Homo sapiens: one gene and its partner. The protein of the gene in region 2 interacts with the protein of the main gene of each other region in a biochemical or structural test. Each region holds a gene or a part of one and is shown on either strand. Other genes may lie near its edges.

Region 1 (3,500 bases), on a different chromosome or scaffold from region 2:
TCACTAGGAGTAGATTCCATCTCAAGAAGCCACTTTCTGTCCAGGCGTAATGGGGTCACGCTTATAATCCCAGCAGTTTGGGAGGCTGAGGCAGGAGGATTGCTTGCGCCAAGGAATTCAAGAACAGCGTGGGCAACATGGCAAAATCCCATTAAAAAAATATAGAGGTTAGCCGGTTGTGGTGATTTGGGAAGCTGAAGCAGGGAGAGTGCTTGAGCCGGGGAGGGGAGGTCAGGGCTGCAGTGAGCTGTGGCAGTGCAGACCAGCCTGGGCAACAGAGCAAGACCCTGTCTTAAAAAAAAAAAAAGGCCACTTTGTTTCCTCATCCATAAGAAGCAACTTTTCATCTGTTCAAGTTTTAGCTCTGCTTCTAATTGTAGTTCTCTTGCTCTTTCCGTCACATCTACAGTTACTTCCTCCACTGAAGTCTTAAACCCCTCAAAGTCATCCATGAGGGCTGGAATCAGCTTCTTCCAAATTCCTGTTAATGTTGATATTTTGACCTCCTCCCATGAATCATCAGTGTTCTTAATGGCATCTAGAATGATGAATCCTTTCCAGAAGGTTTTCAATTTACTTTGCTCAGATCTGTCAGAAGAATCTGATCACTGTCTATGGTAGTTATAGCCTTACAAAATGTATTTCGTTTGTTTTTCTTTTTTTAGTTTCACAGTGCGTATAAAGTTATGTTTACAATATACTGTAGTCTGTTAAGTGTGCAATGACATTCTAAAAAAGCAATATATATATATATATATATATCAATTAAAAATTATTTGTTGGCCGGGCACGGTGGCTCACGCCTGTAATCCCAGCACTTTGGGAGGCCGAGGCGGGCAGATCACGAGGTCAGGAGATCAAGACCATCCTGGCTAACAGGATGAAACCCCGTCTTTACTAAAAATACAAAACAAACAAACAAACAAAAAAAACCACTAGCCGGGCATGGTGGCGGGTGCCTGTAGTCCCAGCTACTCGGGAGGCTGAGGCAGGAGAATGGCGTGAACCCGGGAGGTGGAGCTTGCGGTGAGCAGAGATGGCGCCACTGCACTCCAGTCTGGGTGACAGAGCGAGACTCCATCTCAAAAAAAAAAAAAAAAATTATTTGTTGCCAAAAAAATGCTAGAAGAACATCTGAGCCTGGCTCAGGCTAGCCTAATTTTTTTATTTTTATTTCTATTTTTAGAGTTAGCATCTCAATGTGTTGCTCAGGCTGGTTGCAAACTCTTTGCCTCAGATGGTCCTCCCACTTTGGCCTCCCAAAATGTTGAGATTACAGGCATGAGCCACTGTCCTGGCTGTATTTCTTAAATTAGGAAATGCATCCAAGTTGGAAAAGTCAAAATACCCTATTCCCTGATGACATGATCTCTGTCATATTTAGAAAAACCTAAGGATGCCACCAAAAACCTCTTGAATTTGACAAATAATCCAGTAAAGTGTCAATACAAAATCAGTGTACAAAAATGAGGAGCATTTCTATACACCAATGACGATCCAACTGAAAACTAAATCAAGAAAGCAATCTTCAAAAAAAGAAAAAATCCACCTAGAAATGTATTTAACCAAGGAGGTAACAGATCTCTATAAGGAGAACTACAAAGTCCTGATGTAAGAAATTCTAGATGACACAGACAAACGGAAAAACATCCCATACTCGTTGATTGGAAGAATCAGTTTTGTCAAAGTGACCATACAACCTGATATGGGTTGTTTATTTGTCTCCTCCAAGTCTCATGTTGAAATGCAATCCCCAGTGTTGGAAGTGGGGCCTGGTGGGAGGTGACTGGATCATGGGGGTGGGTGCCTCATGAATGGCTTAGCAGCGTCCCCTTGATGATGAGCAAGTTCATGTGAGATCTGGTTGTTTAAAAATGTGTGGCATCTCTCCACTCTCTCACTTGCTCCTGCTCTTGCCAAGTGAGGTCCTTGCTCCCACTTTGCCTTATGTCATGAGACCTCACCAGAGGCCAAGCAGGTGCCAGCACCATGCTTCCAGTCCAGCTTGCTGAACCGTGAGCCAATTAAACCTCTCTTCTTTATAAATTACCAAGCCTGAGGTTTTTCTTAAGAGCAATGCAAGAATGGCCTAATACACTACTCAAAGCAATCTGCAGATTGAAGGCAACCCCTATCAATATACCGACATCTGCTGGGTAGAGTGGCTCATGCCTGTAATCCCAGCACTTGGGGAGGCCAAGGCAGGCGGATCACCTGAGGTCAGGAGTTTAAGACCAGCCTGACCAACATGGTGAAACCCTGTCTCTACTAAAAATACAAAAATTAGTGGGACGAGGTGCCAGTAGTCCCAGATACTTGGGAGGCTGAGGCAGGAGAACTGCTTGAACCCAAGAGATGGAGGCTGCAGTAAGCCAAGATCGTGCTGCTGCACTTCATCCTGGGCAATAGAGTGAGTCAATTTGTAAGAAAACACATTATTATCTGTGAAGCACAATGAAAAGTGAAATAAAACAAGGTATACCTCTACTGAAAGAAGAAAACTATCAAACTAGAATTCTAGATCCTGGAACTATGTATTTCAAAAATAAAGGAGAAATAAACACTTCCAGATATCTTTTTTTAAAAAACACTATGAAGCAGAATAAAATGAAGCTCAATAAAATGAGATATACTTGTATATTATTTTCAGCTGAACTCTTTGAAACTAAGCTATGGACATTATGACATTTTACCTCTCAATATGTCACATGCATCTCCTAAAGTTAAGGACATTTTCTTACATAGCCAAAATACCATTATTGTTACTTTTCTTAGGTGCGATACTTCTTTCATATACTCTAATATATATCCATATTTACATCTCATTCGTACTGAATTGTCATTTGTGGTTTGTACACCCATCCCCACCAAATCAGGATTTCATCAAAGTTTATTCATTGCATTTAGTTGTTAAGGCTTTTTGATCTCTTATAGTCTACAGCAGTCTCACCTCTTACACCCTTTAAAAATGACAATGATTTTTTTTAAGAGATCAAGACAGTTGTCTTATAAAGTGACTCATATTCTCGATTTGTCAGATTCCACCCCCCTCCCCCCGTCATAGCATTGTTTAGCTTGTTCCTGTATTCCCCCATACCAGTTGTTAAGTGTAAACTAGATTTAAAGGGTCGATTAGTTTTAATTTCAACATTTTGGACAAGAATACCTAATAAGTGATTTAATATATTTTATATGCCTCCCATTAGGAGACGTACACTGTGCAGTCCCATTATTTGTGATACTAAGTTTGATTGCTTGGTTGAGAGGAGTAAGGTGAGGTATATTTTTCTCACTGCAGTCAGCAAGTAATCTGTGGCATGATAAATTAGCACTGTAATGCTAGCCTGTTCTCCAGTGATCTTTTACCTAATAGTTGTGGTATCTTTTGCTGATCCTTGTCAGGCTAACTTTTAAATTTCAGTGTTAATAAATGTTTGTTGGTCTATAGATGGAAACAAATCACAGGAATTAAAAAATATCCAGCTAGGTTAATCAGAATC
Region 2 (3,500 bases):
TGTGCTCCCTCCTGGCCCCACCTGGCTCTGTGTCGGGACTGTGGCTAGGGCTCCCTCTGCTGGACACTGCAGAGATTGTACACGGGCTGTCCCTGGGGAGGGGCACGAGAAGGAAGGGGGAACGGGCTCTAGCAGAGCCGCCCAGTGCTTGAAGTCAGATCCATCACACGAGTTCTCCCATCCCACCCTCAAAGCCGGCCCAGGGTTACAGCAAGAAGAATTAGAGGGTCCATGTTACTAAAATCACTTGAAGTTAATATAGGCACAATTAGTCCAAAACATGCCTTCTACACACAGACCACACAGGCAAAGCTCCCACCCAGGCAAAGCTCCCACCCAGTTCCCAAGAAGATCCCCAGAGTACACAGACTACAAGACTGCCTCTGCCTCTCTGGGACATCATTTCCCCTTACCCCTCCCCTCACTCAGCGAGTGATGCTTTTTTTGTTTTGAGACGGAGTCTAGCTCTGTCACCCAGGCTGGAGTGCAGTGGCACCATCTCGGCTCACTGAAACCTCCGCCTCCCAGGTTCAAGCGATTCTTCTGCCTCAGCCTTCCGAGTAGCTGGGATTACAGGCACCCGCCATCATGACTGGCTAATTTTTGTTTTTTTGTAGAGACGGGGGTTTCACCATGTTGGCCAGGCTGGTCTTCAACTGACCTCAGGTGATCCTCCCGCCTCAGCCTCTCAAAGCGTTGGAATTACAGGCGTGAGCCACTGTGCCCGGCTCAGTGATGCTCTTTTCAACTCGAATTCCGTGGCAGATGTCTTAGAGGGGTGGGGGATACCAGGGATGTTCTGCCCAGGATTCTGTGCCTGAGACTGCTGTCTGACAGTCTCTATTTCCTCCACCTTTATACCTACCTTCCCTTTCTGCAGTGTCCCCACACCCTCCTCTGAGACGCCATGTTCAACTCGATGACCCCACCACCAATCAGTAGCTATGGCGAGCCCTGCTGTCTCCGGCCCCTCCCCAGTCAGGGGGCCCCCAGTGTGGGGACAGAAGGTCAGTGTATATACCAATCCCTGGGCCTTGAGGATTTGGCAGATCTCCCACTTGGGCCCACCCCCACCCCATGCCAGTTTCCTATCTACAGGAGGATTTGAGGCCCCATGTCATATGGACCTGGAATCTGGGATCAGGTCATGTCTGGGGTTTTAAGGTGAGGTTTATGTATCCTCCATTCCCATTCCAGCTGTCTCTTTTTTCTAGGACTGTCTGGCCCGCCCTTCTGCCACCAAGCTAACCTCATGTCCGGCCCCCACAGTTATGGGCCAGCCAGAGAGACCAACAGCTGCACCGAGGGTGAGGGCTCAGGCAACACCTCTTCCCTTTCTGCCCCTCTCTGACTTGTTCTGAAAGAGAAAGTGGGAGGGCAGGGGATCTCACTTGGAGGAGGAGATGCTTGGAGATGTGAGGCGTCAGAGCACCATCAAGAAGTCACAGATGGGGCCGGGCGCGGTGGCTCACGCCTGTAATCCCAGCACTTTGTGGGGAAGCCGTGGCAGGAAGATCGCTTGAGGTCGGGAATTCAAGACCAGCCAGGCCAACATGGTGAAACCCTGTCTCTACTAACAATACAAAAATTAGCCGGGCGTGGTGGCTTGCACCTGTAGTGCCGATTACAGGGGAGGCTGAGGCAGGAGAATCACTTGAACCTGGGAACGCAGAGGTTGCAGTGAGGCAAGATGGTGCCACGCACTCCAGCCTGGGTTACAGAGCATGACTCTGTGTCTCTCAAAAAAAAAAAAAAAAAGTCACAGATAGCATCAATAGGGCAAAGCAGAATCAAGTATCATTGGTTTTGCCAAGTCAGGACCCATAGGTTAGGTGCATGGAGAGACATGCCCCTTTACCATATCCGTCTCCGCTGTCTCCTGCCCCAGGCCCACTCTTTTCTTCTCCCCGGAGTGCAGTCAAGTTGACCAAGAAGCGGGCACTGTCCATCTCACCTCTGTCGGATGCCAGCCTGGACCTGCAGACGGTTATCCGCACCTCACCCAGCTCCCTCGTAGCTTTCATCAACTCGCGATGCACATCTCCAGGAGGCTCCTACGGTCATCTCTCCATTGGCACCATGAGGTGCAGTCAGCCCCGGGCCAAGAGGCCCCTAAAGCCCCTACCCAAGTCCATTAAAAGTCTCAAGCCCTCAAACTACCTAACCCTATTTGAATCCTTGTCATTTCAAAGACAACTCTCCTCAGTACTTCCCTGGGACTGCCTCAACCACTACAAATCCCAAGTCTTCCAGAAATCCTCCAAATAGCCCAATCCTTCCTGAGACTTCCTAATTGTCTTAAGTAACTGCCTCCTCTCCTCCTCAGCCCATCTCTGGGATTCCCAGCCCAGATGAATCACCAAAAAGGGCCCTCGCCTTCCTTTGGGGTCCAGCCTTGTGGTCCCCATGACTCTGCCCGGGGTGGGATGATCCCACATCCTCAGTCCCGGGGACCCTTCCCAACTTGCCAGGTGAGAGTCCCCATATTGCTACCTGATTTCCCTCAGCTCAGGGTGGGTGGGTGGTGGATTTTGTAGGGGAAAGGTGAAGGAAGGACAAGGGATATAAGTTTTCAGTACTAGAAAAGTAAAGAGGTGTGGGTGCTGGGGTTCACTCCTTGCAGTTGAGTCAGACGCTTCCAAATGGGATCCCACCTTTTGCCCATCCCATTCACCAGTGTAGTCTGAGGAGGAAGTCCCTTCCAAACCCAGGAGGTTCCAGCTGCTTGGGTGGGGGCACTTAGGGCAGGAAGACCTGGCTTGGTTTCCTCTTCCTTCTGCTTACTTCCACCCTCATCACCGTCACCTCTTCCCCTGGGGAAGCTGAAGTCTGAGCTGGACATGCTGGTTGGCAAGTGCCGGGAGGAACCCTTGGAAGGTGATATGTCCAGCCCCAACTCCACAGGCATACAGGTAAGGGGATGGGCAGGAGCTTTACCTCTGGGACCTGAGCAAAACTAAAGCTGTCACCCAAGTGACCCTGAGATTGCCTCTCTTGCCCTAGGATCCCCTGTTGGGGATGCTGGATGGGCGGGAGGACCTCGAGAGAGAGGAGAAGCGTGAGCCTGAATCTGTGTATGAAACTGACTGCCGTTGGGATGGCTGCAGCCAGGAATTTGACTCCCAAGAGCAGCTGGTGCACGTGAGCCCCAGGGGGTAACAGGAATGGCTAGCCAGAACCTTTAGGAGATTCTGAGTGGGACATGGTGGAATCCGGCTGAGGGCAGGAGGTCAGAGGAGACTGAGGTTGAATGCTCAGTTGGGTAGGCAGAAGCTCAGAAGTTGTAGCTTTGCCTTAGGGAGCTGGAAGACCTGAGATGTGAGATATGATATTGCTCCTGCCTCTTCCTCCTTGAGGTGGAGTCGTGGAAGAGGAACAGGGGGTGGAGGGAAGGTCTGTTCTGGACCTCAGGGTCATGGGAGAGCCTTGGAGAGCCTTTGTATCTTCTCCCTCAGCACATCAACAGCGAGCACATCCACGGGGAGCGGAAGGAGTTCGTG

Evidence for each region. Proteins that work in one complex are often made in the same cells at the same time.
Region 1: of the proteins of GLI1 (region 2) and MAP3K2, one has a biochemical effect on the other in vitro, tested with the Homo sapiens proteins (one study listed by BioGRID).

Annotation. Positions count from the first base shown.
Region 1 is NC_000002.12:127,381,476-127,384,975, reverse strand, and holds part of MAP3K2 (mitogen-activated protein kinase kinase kinase 2), read left to right. Parts: intron 1-3,500. UniProt on the Homo sapiens protein: Component of a protein kinase signal transduction cascade. Regulates the JNK and ERK5 pathways by phosphorylating and activating MAP2K5 and MAP2K7. Plays a role in caveolae kiss-and-run dynamics.
Region 2 is NC_000012.12:57,462,785-57,466,284, forward strand, and holds part of GLI1 (zinc finger protein GLI1), read left to right. Parts: exon of another isoform or gene 1-188; intron 189-880; 5' UTR 881-907; coding exon 908-1,007; intron 1,008-1,214; coding exon 1,215-1,307; intron 1,308-1,888; coding exon 1,889-2,084; intron 2,085-2,326; coding exon 2,327-2,471; intron 2,472-2,822; coding exon 2,823-2,912; intron 2,913-3,003; coding exon 3,004-3,141; intron 3,142-3,455; coding exon 3,456-3,500. UniProt on the Homo sapiens protein: Acts as a transcriptional activator. Binds to the DNA consensus sequence 5'-GACCACCCA-3'. Regulates the transcription of specific genes during normal development.